Homo sapiens: one gene and its partner. Each later gene encodes a partner of the first gene's protein in a complex. Each region holds a gene or a part of one and is shown in the gene's direction. Other genes may lie near its edges.

Region 1 (7,074 bases):
CCCAGTGTCCATAGATTTCTGTGGCCATGGCTACAGGCTCCTGGCCTCCAATGAGTTTGACTCTGCTTCTGGGGCTCCTGTAGTGAGGCAGAGTTTGGAAAAACTGTTTAAAGATAAGGCTTGACATCCAGGGGGCTGGCGTGAAGCTGACAAGGAAGGGGCTAAAGTCTTGCTAATTTTAAGTAAGTGCACTTCATCATAATGAATGTTGGCCTTGCCTAGGGAGCCCCTACTCTCAGACACAGAGAAAGCTGAGGACTTATAGGACTTCACTACAATTTTCATTTCACTTCATCTAACAGATGTCATAGAGTAGTGAATTAGGCATCTGCTGTGGCAGAACCTTCTTTTTACTCTCAGCATCCCTGGCTTGAAAGGCAGATTTGTAGATTTCTAGGAAGCTACTTCAATTAAAATCTCTAAGATCCTCTTGCTAAGGGCTTGGCAACAGGGAGGAGGGGGCATGTTGTAGTGGTTGAATTCTTACTTTTAGGGACACTGATGAATTTGTCTTTTGTTCTCTCATCTCTTTTGCTTCTTCCCCTCTTCTTTCTCCTAGCCTCCTCTATTGGCCCAGGAAGCCCACCCAGCCCCGCCACGCAGAGCCCAGAAGGAAAGAAAGCCTCATGCCTGAGCCGAGGGGAGCACCATGGATCTGACAAAAATGGGCATGATCCAGCTGCAGAACCCTAGCCACCCCACGGGGCTACTGTGCAAGGCCAACCAGATGCGGCTGGCCGGGACTTTGTGCGATGTGGTCATCATGGTGGACAGCCAGGAGTTCCACGCCCACCGGACGGTGCTGGCCTGCACCAGCAAGATGTTTGAGATCCTCTTCCACCGCAATAGTCAACACTATACTTTGGACTTCCTCTCGCCAAAGACCTTCCAGCAGATTCTGGAGTATGCATATACAGCCACGCTGCAAGCCAAGGCGGAGGACCTGGATGACCTGCTGTATGCGGCCGAGATCCTGGAGATCGAGTACCTGGAGGAACAGTGCCTGAAGATGCTGGAGACCATCCAGGCCTCAGACGACAATGACACGGAGGCCACCATGGCCGATGGCGGGGCCGAGGAAGAAGAGGACCGCAAGGCTCGGTACCTCAAGAACATCTTCATCTCGAAGCATTCCAGCGAGGAGAGTGGGTATGCCAGTGTGGCTGGACAGAGCCTCCCTGGGCCCATGGTGGACCAGAGCCCTTCAGTCTCCACTTCATTTGGTCTTTCAGCCATGAGTCCCACCAAGGCTGCAGTGGACAGTTTGATGACCATAGGACAGTCTCTCCTGCAGGGAACTCTTCAGCCACCTGCAGGGCCCGAGGAGCCAACTCTGGCTGGGGGTGGGCGGCACCCTGGGGTGGCTGAGGTGAAGACGGAGATGATGCAGGTGGATGAGGTGCCCAGCCAGGACAGCCCTGGGGCAGCCGAGTCCAGCATCTCAGGAGGGATGGGGGACAAGGTTGAGGAAAGAGGCAAAGAGGGGCCTGGGACCCCGACTCGAAGCAGCGTCATCACCAGTGCTAGGGAGCTACACTATGGGCGAGAGGAGAGTGCCGAGCAGGTGCCACCCCCAGCTGAGGCTGGCCAGGCCCCCACTGGCCGACCTGAGCACCCAGCACCCCCGCCTGAGAAGCATCTGGGCATCTACTCCGTGTTGCCCAACCACAAGGCTGACGCTGTATTGAGCATGCCGTCTTCCGTGACCTCTGGCCTCCACGTGCAGCCTGCCCTGGCTGTCTCCATGGACTTCAGCACCTATGGGGGGCTGCTGCCCCAGGGCTTCATCCAGAGGGAGCTGTTCAGCAAGCTGGGGGAGCTGGCTGTGGGCATGAAGTCAGAGAGCCGGACCATCGGAGAGCAGTGCAGCGTGTGTGGGGTCGAGCTTCCTGATAACGAGGCTGTGGAGCAGCACAGGTAGGCCCCGCTCCAGCCCCGCACCTGATGTAGGACTTGAGGCCCTCACACCCCTCCTTCACACCCTGGCTGCTCCCAAGTTAGGGGCCTGGCTCCCCTGTCTTGGCAATTTGTGAAAAAACCAGAACACTTCTTCTAAAGTTCTGGCGGGGAGGGGAGCAGGTTTTTTAAAGTGTAGTGAGGGGGCCTAGGATCTTTCCAAAAAGCACCAGGGGACACTCATGGGCGCAGCTTCTTAATAGGCCCTTCCCTTTGTTTTTTGCTTTTGGGCCCCTGTTTGTTTTTTCGGCTGTTTGGTCTGTTCTCCTTTGCTTGGAGTGACTGATAAAATGGAGAGAAGGAGAAAAGGAGTGGGATGAGGGTCTCTTGGGCCCTGCATCTGACCATGTTACTAGGTTTCAGGTCCTCGGGTTCCCATGCAGTGGTCCCTGTGAAGACAGCCTGTCCCTTTCTGCAGCTTGGGAGAATGGGAGGGTCTGGGGGCTGCTTAAGCCACAAGAGCAGCTGCAGGTTCTGAACCTTATTCCTGGTGAAAGTTAATCTCCTTGCTCTGTCTCCCTTCTCATTCTCTGATCCTGCACATGCATTTAGGGGGAATTGATTTAAATGCAAGGGGAAAGGATGGGTATAAGAGTCTTGGTCTTGCAGCCTGTGAAGTCTCATTCTTATCCCATCTCTGCTCACACTGAACTAAATGCCGCTTCAGGCTAGCATTGGCTTCCCTCCGGCTTCCGTTTCCTTCTCTATGAAATAACCATTCATTGAGCTCTTATGACATGTTTGGTTCAGTACTAAGCACTTTCCATGAGTTGCATTTTCATTACAACAGCCCTTTGAGATAGGTAATGTCCTTCTTTTTTTTTTGGATGTGAAGTTTCGCTCTCCTTGCCCAGGCTGGAGTGCAATGGTGTGATCTCTGCTCACCGCAACCTCTGCATCCCGGGTTAAGGTGATTCTCCTGCCTCAGCCTCCCGAGTAGCTCGGATTACAGGCACGCACCACCATACCTGGCTAATTTTGAATTTTTAGTAGAGACGGGCTTTCACCGTGTTGGTCAGGATGGTCTCGAACTCCCGACCTCAGGTGATCGGCCTGCTTCGGCCTCCCAAAGTGCTGGATTACAGGTATGAGCCACCGTGTCCAGCTGGTAATGTCCTTCTTTTACATGGAACAATACTAAGGCTCAGATGTCAAGTCTCTTTTCTAGGGTCACATAGATAGTAAGAGGCAGAGCTGGATTCAAATTTAGGTCCTTACCCCCTGGTACTTTGCTGCCTCTTGGAGTCACTTAGACTTGAAGAGGATCATGTCTATGGAACAGAGCGTTTTGAAGATTGCTTATAGGAAGTGGAGTAAATAACAGGGGGGATAAGTAGCGAGTTTGTTTTTTTTTTCCTTGCTTCTGTCATAAACCACGTGCCCATCATTTTATCCTCTAGTTTCTGGGTCAGATGAATGGAGTCAAGAAATCCAGCTTTCTGTTGTCATTGACGACAGCATTTGGCTGCATACCCTGTGGTCTGCTGTTTTGCTGATCTTGGGTGGATTCTCCACTTCCTCCCCCTTCACCCCCATTCCCCTGTTGCTCGTTCAGGTACGGGGGATGTGAGTGAGAGGGGTTGGGGTGGGGATATCTGGAAGTTGATCTCATCACCCCTAGCCGGAATCTGCTCTGACCCTGCCTCCTCGACAGCTCAGAGGCTTAACTTGTGGAAAGTGTGGCAGAGCTAAACGTAGCCGACTTTTTCCAGTGGGTGCGAAAAATAACCGCCACTAAGGTGTGTCTTCTTGATGCTTGTACCGCTCAGAAATAGACTGAGGTTGTGTTTGTTTTTGCTCAAACTTTCCTAAAGAGGAAACCCGCTCCCCAAAGTTGACCAGATAGATGTATCATCTTTCCGGATGTGAATTATTTCGGCTGTGTGCTATGAGAACTGGGTATGGTGGGAAGTAATTGTTTTTCTGGCTCTCATCAGGTCCTGGTTCCTGGTTGCTTTTCTTTACCCGAGAGGGCCACAAAAGATACCACTCTCCTGAGACTTCCAAGTTCCCCTTCAGCAAGACCCTCATTCCTCTGGGGAGAGAGGGAGAGTTGGCCATGTTATATTCGAAAGAGCCTGGGTATTGGAATTGGCCATATTTAGTGGTGAGAGCCTGTGATACTTATTTAACCTTTCTGGGCCTTGTTTCACTCACTACATTTTTTTTTTTTTTTTTTTTTGAGACGGAGTCTCGCTCTGTCACCGGGCTGGAGTGCAATGGCGTGATCTCAGCTCACTGCAGTCTCCACCTCCCGGGTTCAAGCGATTCTCCTGCCTCAGCCTCCTGAGTAGCTGGGACTACAGGCACCTGTCACCCCGCCCAGCTAATTTTTTGTATTTTTAGTAGAGACAGGGTTTCACCATGTTGGCCAGAATGGTCTCGATCTCTTGACCTTGCGATCCATCCACCTCGGCCTCCCAAAGTGCTGGGATTACAGCTGTGAGCCACCCCGCCCGGCCTTCACTCACTTCTTAAAATGGAGACGGTCAACAGGGTTGGTGCTGAATTAATGAAGTAAGATCCAGAAATCACTAGAGCTGTGATGGGCACATAGTCACCGCAGCGGTGGAGAACTGACCATCTGTCCCTTGTGTTGTTTAGGCCTCATCTCTGCATGGTCCTCATTGGCTCTGAGTTCTAGTGTGTAGTGTCCACAGTGCCACCCTCCATGAGGGTTGTGTTGACTGTGAGGTGGTGCAGAGAATGTCCCTGTCCTTGTGAGCATATGACAGCAAGACACTGGCCCTGGAATCCTCCGTGTCACATGTGGGCTGCTGACAGGAAGAATGTGCTTTTGTTGTTGTTGTTGTTGTTGAGGCAGAGTCTTACTCTGTCGCCCAGGCTGCAGTGCAGTGGCATGATCTTGGCTCACTGCAACCTCTACTTCCCGGGTTCAAGTGATTCTCCTGCCTCAGCCTCCTGAGCAGCTGGGACTACAGATGTGTACCACCATGCCCGACTAATTTTTGTATTTTTAGTAGAGATGGGGTTTCACCATGTTGGTCAGGCTGGCCTGGAACTCCTGGCCTTAAGTGATCCACCTGTCTCGGCCTCCCATAGTGCTGGGATTATAGGTGTGTGCCACCCTGCTGGGCCGAGAATGTGCTTTTGACTGAGGGTGGAAAGTCAGCAGCTGCAGCCCAAGAAGTTAGAGCCAGGGGCAGTGCCTTTGATGGGAAGCTTGGGGGTCTAAAGAAATCAGAAAGGGGAGAAAATAATCCTGCGTGTGCTCAGCCCTCACTCAGATCAACAGCCCCTCGGGTCCCAGCTAGATGTACTTTGTAGAAGGCTTTTTTTCTCCCCCTCACCCTCAAAACTCCAGGATTAATGTGCTATTCCCTTTTTTCTACTGTTCTCTGTCTCCCCCCAACCCATCAGCAGTCTGAGAAATGCTATGGTGGAAAAAAAAAAACAACAGCCCTATAACCAGTACAAACAAAAAGCCAAGACAAAAAAAAAAAAAAAATCAGAAGGGGAGATTTTGAGGCCAGGAAGCCATGGCATTCACTGGAAATATATCAGTGATAAAATAACAGGCTACAGGGTTTATTTTATTTTATTTTTAAGTCAATAGGCCTGAGTGTTGGTAAAGACTAGATACCCAGCAGTCCTTCTTGCATTTCTTCTTGGGGTGGGGGGGCAGAAGGGAATGGAGAGGAAATGAAGGCGGATTGCTGGTAAGTGAGGCAGGAAGGCAGGGAGTTTATTATGGAATGTCATCGGTAAGTTTCCCCATGATTTGATCCCAAGCTGGTGTGGAGTGAAGGGTAAGCTGTTGGCTCAACAGATAGTGAGAATCAAACTTAGTGGAGTTGTAGAGCCTGTTTCCTGCAGCGGACAGCAAGATGTACAAGCCGTCCACTGCAGGAATGACGTGCTGTAAAAGGGATGCAGTGTCAAGTGTAGTCATGGATGGGTGGGAAGACCAGACAAAGGCATCCAATGGGACTGACTTACCTAAACAAACCAGAAGGAAGTCAGAACAGTGGGAAGATCTGATAGATAAGCAGTATTCTGCAGGCAGATGAAGGAGCAAGCTTTGGGCCCCCAAATCTTCACCAGTGCATCCACATTACAGAGGATAATGCCTGAGGGAGGGGAAGATCATCTCAGGATTCTGGAACACTGGGCCCTCCCTTTCTTATTCCAAAAGGCTGGAGCAGTTCTGCATGTAGGCTTCTCTGGAAATGGTCTAGGAACCAGCTCATCCAGGCCAGGAGCACCTGATCATTCTCAGAGTTACGTACATATGCGATAAGATTGCAGGGAACAGTATAGTTCTATAGACTTAAGTGTGAACATAGTCCTCATTTATAGTCCCTAGTCTCCCATGGCTCACGCAGCTTGGTCTTTATGTGTTTCTGAATTTAGTGCTGCAGAGGCACAATGGGGTCTGGTTTCTGGATCTTATACAGACAAGCACTTAGGTCAGCTGCAGTGGATGTCCTGCACAGACACCGTCGCAACTCTTGCCTGGTTCCTTTTTGTTTTTGGAGATGGAGTCTCGCTCTGTCTCCCAGGCTGGAGTGCAGTGGCGCGATCTCAGCTCACTGCAAGCTCTGCCTCCCAGGTTCACGCTATTCTCCTGCCTCAGCCTCCCAAGTAGTTGGGACTACAGGCACCCGCCACCACGCCCGGCTAATTTTTTGTATTTTTAGTAGAGACAGGGTTTCACCGTGTTAGCCAGTATGGTCTCGATCTCCTGAACTCGTGATCCACCTGCCTCGGCCTCCCAAAGTGCTGGGATTACAGGTGTGAGCCACCACGCCCGGCCTATTGCCTGGTTCTTGAAGGGATTCTCAGGAACCACAGGGAATGTCTGAGCCAGCTTTCTGGATCCGTGTGTACAGCCCTTCCCAGAGGCTTTGTGGAGCCAGCTGTACGGTGCATGAGCTTTGTGGCTAAGATATCAGAGTTCTGCCTGGCCCTTGGCCTTGGTCTCTCTCAGATGGTCAGCTGCTCTGTTTTTAGTGGTTGATCATGTAGAAGGCCAACAGGTGTTGACCTTGGTTTAGGCTACTTTTGGGATTTTTGAGGTTTCCTGAGACTCTTGGTTTTCTTTCATCATCCCGTCCAGAACCTCTGATGTCAAACTAAATTCTGTTTGGAAAAGGG
Region 2 (7,753 bases), on another chromosome or scaffold:
CCTCCTGATCCACCCACTGTGGCCTCCCAAAGTGCTGGGATTACAGGCGTGAGCCACCGCGTCTGGCCTCTGACACTCACTTTTCATGTTACTTTAGGTAAGTCAGGTTTTTAGTTTCTGAAAAGGATGACAAGAGAATAGAATTTATCCTTGAAATATCTTTTTAAAATGTTCATGTGAAAGATACAGCAAATACCATGCCATCGTACTGTTCTTTAACGTTTTAGAATTATTACATTATTTGACTTTTTCAGTTCTTATGCTATGGAATGTGTATGTAGGAAATGTACATTTTTTAATAGAAAAGCTAAGAAGGGAAAATTTACCATTTTTATATTTTCAAACATTATCTGTGAAGTTAATTCATTATTTTGTCAACATCTTCCTACTGATATCTTTCAAAGGGCTTCAGTGAGTGTTTTAAATATTCTAAGTTAAACCCACATCCAGATATTCCAGAAAAGTGCATTTCATCCTGCTTTTTCCAAAAAGTCAATAGGAGGTTTACTGGCATCAAATGGCTGTTGAATCCCTTCCAGTTCTACAAATTTCCTTGCAGACTGAGCAAGTGTGTGACCTCAATCTCTCCTTTGTCTATTTTGTCTGTTTCTCACTTAGCTCTTTAAATTCTGACACAGTGAGTATTTAACCTTCATCAAGATCCCAAATTTTGCTCTAAATAGGGACCTATACATACGTTGACATATAGGCTGCCGACTAACAGCTTCTGTGTACAATATGTGGATGATTAAGAGCTCCTGTGATTTTATCTGGCTTGATTCTTAGACCCTCCACAGAGAGTTTATCTCCTCCACATGCAAAAGTCTCTTTAATATCTGTATGCTCTGTGCACAGGGGAGGTAGGCTATAGAGAGAGGTCAAACAGAGGGAAAGTATTTCTAAAAAAGAATATTTGCAATTTGAAAAACAGTAAGATTGTCTCATAAAATGCTGTTACTAAGAAGGAAGACTCTCATATCAATTACAGAAGGTTCATTTATGTCATGGTGCTCCATAGTATGTGTAGATATATTCATATAAACAAATGTGTTCAAATATATATAACTTATTTAAAAAATTGGAAAAGCCCTGAATATCACGTGTGCTCTTCAAACCTTACGACACTTTTGCCAAAGCTGAAGAAACCCGCAATGATGTCCACAGAAATCCAGATGAAATGTGGCTGCATTTTTTCTCTTCTTCAAATACGCCAAGATCAGAGTTTAAGAAGCTTTAGCATGGTTGCAACATCATGCTATTTAAGGAAACTGCACTCTAAAGAATGAAGGCTGTGATTCCACCTCTGGATAGAGGGTGAAAGCCACGAACTCAGCAGTTCCTAGGAATACCATCTATCTCCTGGACAGCACCCACAAGCTGCTGGGGGAATGGGGTTGCACCCCTCTTGCAGCTGCATAACCTGGGGGCAAAGTTCCAATAAGGTACTCTTGTAGGAACCGTTTCTTTACACTGCTCTATAGACTGTCAGTTCAGGGCTTCCGTGTGTTAATAGCTGCTTGACTGGAGTAAGCTCTGGAAACCAGATTCAGATTTTAGATGTTTAACGTTCACGCAGTAGAAGCCCGTTTCAATCTCAGTGTCGGAAGGTCACATTAGTTCTACCCATTGAGCTATCGCTTACAACTGCTCTCTTAGGTTTGCCTTCCAAGCCACTTCCTTATTCCTGCTTTTCTGATAGTGTCATACTGAATGGCTTTCCTTTTACTCCTACACTGTGATTTTTATTTAAAAAAAAAAACAACTCTCAGAAATTAGAGCTGGAAAGGACTGTTGGTTTGTCTAGTCTCAGCAGGAGTGTTCTCCATAGAATATTTCCTTTAGTCCTTAAGACAAATTGCAACATTTTAGTGTTCTGGTGAAAAGCCAGCCTCATCCCGCTGCGTCGCCGACACTTGGCCCAGCATCTGCCTGCCTGTCCGTATATGAATGTGCAGGAGCACACTGCAGCCAACCCGGTAACCTTGACTCTGGGTGGCAAAGATGATCATAATTCTCTTTTGAGAGGACCTGGTGCCTCAAGCAAGAGGGCAGAGTCTACGTGACTAAAACATACCAACTTCCTCTTTCATAAGTCATCACATGATGAACTACAATTACAATTCCTGCCTTGTCTCTGCGAATTGCAGACGCATTGCCTCACCCTAGAAACCCTGCTCCTGTGTGTGGAGGAGGCGGCTGTAACTGCTGCAGCAGCCGCTTTGGATGGGATCCAACTCCAGTCTGTGCCGGGAGGGAGCGGTGGGTGGAAGACAAAAACAAAGCTATGTTTACTTAGCATACATCGATAAAGCTGCTTCAGAGCTACATGAAAGGCCAGGCTGCATGAAAGACTTCTGATACAATATAAGGAATTGCTGCCCTGAATCCAGCCTTAACCCCCTTGATTCCGGATCGAGCCCAGAACTAAAATAGCCCTTCCATTTTCCATCGGGCATTTCATTAGGGAAGTTACAACAACTCAGTTTCGACATGAAACTGGCAGTGTAAAATAAGAAGGAAATGCTCTTCCTTTGGAGAAGAAAAGCTCCGTTTTGCAAAGATCTTAGTATCGTGGCAGAATTTCTATCTCTAATTCTATTTTAGGATGGAGTGGCAGGCTCTCCCCTTGAGGCCATTACAGTACCAGCTTGCAGAGAAATGAGTATAATTAGGCCACAACTCTAATGGTGAGTTGTGTTTTCTTTTAGTATGTTTCAGTCAATGCTTAGTGGGGCCGTCTCTTGGGGGCGATGAGTTGGTTCATTTCTCTGCAGCACAAGGACTGGACTTCATCCCCTTTGGGCAGTGACGCAGTGGGTGAAGGCATGTACTGGAATGAGTGTCACAGGGTCTCTGAGGAGGGTGACCAAAGGGACAGGTCTTGAAAGCGGTGTGCAACAGCAGGGCCTGGGAGTGACCAAACCCGCTGGCACCAGCTACTCCCGGGAAGGATCTGGACAGGCCCCATTCTCCCAGCTTGGAGAGGGTGAGGCAGGATTGCAATTGCAGGGCAAGATCCAGGAACAGATGCAGAGACCTTTAAAACAGGCGCACCTTCTATGGAAATCCCCAAAAGACATTCAAGGTTAGCCTGTAAAAACATTTAGGTCTGACATTACGTTTTCTGTGCCATTTTCGAACAGGTTTTTTCATGTGTTTTAAGCAGCTCCCTCCACTGTTTCTCTAAGGGTGTTTTTCCTCTTCCTTGTGGTTAATCCTTTGAAGCAACCTGGTATTTTCAATAGCAACGACTAGAGAGAAACGTCAGCATGATTTTTTTTTTCTCTCCACCTACCAATCCAGTTGTAGGAAAGATAATATAATTAGTACCCTGTTCTTCCCACACTTAACCAGCTCATTCCAGTCTCAAGGGAGAGTTGTGGGCCTGTGTTCCCAACAAAAGCAGCTCCAGAGGCCGCCCTTAAAGAGCTTAAGTGTAAAAGTCCCAATTGAAGAGCGACTAAGCCTACGTGTATTAGGGAGACTAACGACCAGCCCAAAGTGATTTACCATAACACACACTAGCTCCTCCTCCCGATAAAAGTGCGAAACTCAAACATTCAATTCAGTCTGGGCTGAGTCTGAGGCTGCCAACGGTGGCAGACCTGCAGGCCGGGCTCATCCCGGCCTGGGTGGCATATAGGGCAAAAGTCCGCCTCCGTCGGCGGCCCGCCCTGCGGGACGGCGGGCCAGCCAGCCAGCCGGTCGCCCCCACGGCCCTCGGGAACCTCGCGGAGGCGAGCAGGACCCCCCCCCCCCCCACTCGCGCCCTCGCCTCCCGCCACCTCGAGTCCAAGTTCGGGCCCGGGGGCGGCGCCTCGACGCCCAGACTCGCCGAAGGGGGTGGAGCCTGCGCTGTGACGCGGCCGCGCTGGCCGTAGACCCCGGATCCCTGGAATGTGCATTCGTTCCACGAGGCCCTAGTGCCAGCGGCGCCGAGGCACGTCTGCGCGGAGCGTGCGCACTCGCGGCGGCGGCCGCCCACGGCCCCGCGCCCACGTCACGCGCCCGCCGCGCATACCTACATAAGGCAGCCGGGGCGACTGGCGCGGCGAGGCCCCCGATGAACAGGGCGGGCTGGACGGGGCTAAGAGCGGCACTTGGTGTTCGGGAGAGGCTAGTCCGAACCGCGCTCCCTCCCCTCCAGAGGGCTCCGTGGAAAACGCGCGAGCCAGCTGGCGGCGTGTGCACGTGGTGCTGGGCTTGGGAATATTCACAGTCTCCCTAGTTAGTAAAAGGGACAGGCGGGGCGTATGTCCTTTCCAAGACAAATGCAAAGCACCAGTGACGGATTTCATGCTATGTGTCCGACATTGAGCTTTCAAGTATAACTCCTAAAAAACCAGAACTGTGAACCACGCTAGACCTAAATTCCCCATTCTCAGGAGACTGACGGAAACCAAGTGACAAAGTGTCCTTGCATAAAAGAAAAAAAATGATTTTTAGCACGATTTGGCCCAGAGGCACACCAGAGGAAAACATCCTGAGGGTGGTCGGGACAGCCGGGTGGGGCGCGAAGTGAGGGAAAGTGGAGGAAAAGCACTCGATCACTTTGCGCGGTGTTCCGAAGGGAACACCGGCGCTGCGCTGCTGCGCTGCCCCGCGGGCGGGCGGGCGCCGCGTAGCCGGCTCTCCCGGCAGCGCTCCTTCGGCGCGCGGGGGGAGGGGGAGCGCGCGCGCGGGAGGGCGGGCACGCGCACGAGGGGAGGGGGCCCGCGCAGGCGCCGTGCGAGACTGTCGAAGAATCAAGTCTGTAGAAGTGGAGCGGTCGCGGCGGCAGCAGCAGCAGCGACGGTGGCGGCGGCGGAGCTGAGGCGGGCTGGCCGCTGACGCTGGCGCTGGAGAGCGGCGACGCCAGGAGCTGTGAGAGAGCGGCGGAGCGACCCGGGGCCCGCGCCGCGCCCGAGCTCCACGCCGCCCGGCCGCCGCCACCCCGGCGCGGCATGCCCCGCCGCTCGGGCTGAGCCTGCCCCGGCGGCCGCCCCCCGCCCCCTGCCCCCCCGGCCTCCCCGCCCCCCGCCCCGCACTCCGTGCCGGCCGCCGCCGCGACCTGCTGCGCTCCCCCGCGCCCGCGCGGCCCGTCTTCGCCCCGGTCTGGAGGCCCGCCGCGGCTCCGGCCGAGCCCCCACCGCCGCGCCCGCCGCCCCGCCGCGCCGCGCCGCCCGCCCGTGCCCGGGCCGGCCGGGGGGAACTGCTGCCGCGGCTGCAGCCCCTCACCTCGCGCCCGCCGCCCCTCGTGCACCGGGGGCGCTGCGCGGGCGCCGAGCCTTCGCGGGCTTTGCCGCCGCCGCCGCCGCCTTTGCGGCCGCCGCCGCCGCTGGTGGGGGAGACGCGGGGTTGGGGGGGGAGGAGGGCGCGCGTGGTGCCGGTGGGGGGCGGCGGCGGCGCCCCCTCCTCCTCCTCCGCCTCCTCCTCCGGCGTCGCGGGCTCCTCGGACATGGCCGCGGCGGTGGCGGTGGCGGCCGCGTCCCGGCGGCAGTCGTGCTACCTGTGTGACCTGCCCCGCATGCCCTGGGCCATGATCTGGGACTTCACCGAACCCGTCTGCCGCGGCTGCGTCAACTACGAGGGCGCCGACCGCGTCGAGTTCGTCATCGAGACGGCGCGGCAGCTCAAGCGGGCGCACGGCTGCTTCCCGGAGGGTCGCTCCCCACCCGGCGCCGCGGCCTCGGCCGCCGCCAAGCCGCCGCCGCTCTCCGCCAAGGACATCCTTTTGCAGCAGCAGCAGCAGCTTGGCCACGGCGGCCCCGAGGCGGCCCCGCGCGCGCCGCAGGCCTTGGAGCGCTACCCGTTGGCGGCCGCGGCCGAGAGGCCCCCGCGCCTCGGCTCTGACTTCGGCAGCAGCCGCCCGGCAGCGAGCCTGGCCCAGCCGCCGACGCCGCAGCCGCCGCCCGTGAACGGCATCCTGGTGCCCAACGGCTTCTCCAAGCTAGAGGAGCCGCCCGAGCTGAATCGCCAGAGCCCGAACCCGCGGCGCGGCCACGCGGTGCCGCCCACCCTGGTGCCGCTCATGAACGGCTCGGCCACGCCGCTGCCCACCGCGCTCGGCCTCGGCGGCCGCGCTGCCGCCTCCTTAGCCGCGGTGTCCGGAACCGCGGCCGCCAGCCTGGGCTCCGCGCAGCCCACCGATCTGGGCGCCCACAAGCGGCCGGCATCCGTGTCGAGCAGCGCTGCCGTGGAGCACGAGCAGCGTGAGGCGGCAGCCAAGGAGAAACAACCGCCGCCGCCTGCGCACCGGGGCCCGGCCGACAGCCTGTCCACCGCGGCCGGGGCCGCCGAGCTGAGCGCGGAAGGTGCGGGCAAGAGCCGCGGGTCTGGAGAGCAGGACTGGGTCAACAGGCCCAAGACCGTGCGCGACACGCTGCTGGCGCTGCACCAGCACGGCCACTCGGGGCCCTTCGAGAGCAAGTTTAAGAAGGAGCCGGCCCTGACTGCAGGCAGGTTGTTGGGTTTCGAGGCCAACGGGGCCAACGGGTCTAAAGCAGGTAGGGGCGGCTGTGAAGTGAGGGGGTCTAGGGGAGAAAAGGGGACGGAGAGCAGAGGAAGGGTGGTTCTTTGGATTCACCATTTTACCCCAGCCCAGAAACAACAAACACCCCACTTCCTGATCTGCCTGAGGCGGAACCAGTGCTTGGTGGCAACGTGTTCATGTGCTGAAGCAGCATAACAGAGATGAGTCAGACTGGGCTGATACGCTCTGACACGGGGTTTTCCTTTCCCAGCACATTCTTGGATGGGAGCATGAGGGCACCAGTCACCTTTTAACCTATTGGGGGACATTAGCAGTCACATGTTGAGTGCAAACGAGGGTACTTTTGTGCATGTGTACAAACAGGCAGTTACAAGCGTGTCATTTTCAGTGGCTCCATTTTAAATCAGTCTGCTGCCTCAGAATCCCGTACGCCTGAAGGTTTTAAGTTGCATGTGCACCTGAAACTCGTATATGAGTATTTTCTGTCTGTGCTTTTAGAGAGGAGGAATTCTGTAACGACTTTTGTTTCGGGTTAGGAAGAGAATGATCTCTTTCAGTGCACCGCCACTTATGTTACCTTTTTCCTTTTATTTCTTTGTGTTTCCAGTTGCAAGAACAGCAAGGAAAAGGAAGCCCTCTCCAGAACCAGAAGGTGAAGTCGGGCCCCCTAAGATCAACGGAGAGGCCCAGCCGTGGCTGTCCACATCCACAGAGGGGCTCAAGATCCCCATGACTCCTACATCCTCTTTTGTGTCTCCGCCACCACCCACTGCCTCACCTCATTCCAACCGGACCACACCGCCTGAAGCGGCCCAGAATGGCCAGTCCCCCATGGCAGCCCTGATCTTAGTAGCAGACAATGCAGGGGGCAGTCATGCCTCAAAAGATGCCAACCAGGTTCACTCCACTACCAGGAGGAATAGCAACAGTCCGCCCTCTCCGTCCTCTATGAACCAAAGAAGGCTGGGCCCCAGAGAGGTGGGGGGCCAGGGAGCAGGCAACACAGGAGGACTGGAGCCAGTGCACCCTGCCAGCCTCCCGGACTCCTCTCTGGCAACCAGTGCCCCGCTGTGCTGCACCCTCTGCCACGAGCGGCTGGAGGACACCCATTTTGTGCAGTGCCCGTCCGTCCCTTCGCACAAGTTCTGCTTCCCTTGCTCCAGACAAAGCATCAAACAGCAGGGAGCTAGTGGAGAGGTCTATTGTCCCAGTGGGGAAAAATGCCCTCTTGTGGGCTCCAATGTCCCCTGGGCCTTTATGCAAGGGGAAATTGCAACCATC

What was found. The genes of interacting proteins can lie anywhere in the genome.
Region 2: the proteins of ZBTB16 (region 1) and IRF2BP2 are in contact, whole or in part, in a crystal structure (PDB 8YTH), measured with the Homo sapiens proteins. Residues at the interface, in NP_001018011.1 of Homo sapiens: Arg285, Ser287, Val288, Ile289, Thr290, Ser291; in NP_892017.2 of Homo sapiens: Thr516 (codon at 7,577), His517 (codon at 7,580), Phe518 (codon at 7,583), Val519 (codon at 7,586), Gln520 (codon at 7,589), Pro522 (codon at 7,595), Phe531 (codon at 7,622), Leu557 (codon at 7,700), Trp564 (codon at 7,721), Ala565 (codon at 7,724), Phe566 (codon at 7,727), Met567 (codon at 7,730), Glu570 (codon at 7,739), Thr573 (codon at 7,748), Ile574 (codon at 7,751).

Annotation. Positions count from the first base shown.
Region 1 is NC_000011.10:114,062,652-114,069,725, forward strand, and holds part of ZBTB16 (zinc finger and BTB domain-containing protein 16), read left to right. Parts: intron 1-559; 5' UTR 560-649; coding exon 650-1,917; intron 1,918-7,074. UniProt on the Homo sapiens protein: Acts as a transcriptional repressor. Transcriptional repression may be mediated through recruitment of histone deacetylases to target promoters. May play a role in myeloid maturation and in the development and/or maintenance of other differentiated tissues.
Region 2 is NC_000001.11:234,607,179-234,614,931, reverse strand, and holds the start of IRF2BP2 (interferon regulatory factor 2-binding protein 2), read left to right. Parts: upstream 1-4,753; 5' UTR 4,754-5,437; coding exon 5,438-6,485; intron 6,486-7,079; coding exon 7,080-7,753. UniProt on the Homo sapiens protein: Acts as a transcriptional corepressor in a IRF2-dependent manner; this repression is not mediated by histone deacetylase activities. Represses the NFAT1-dependent transactivation of NFAT-responsive promoters.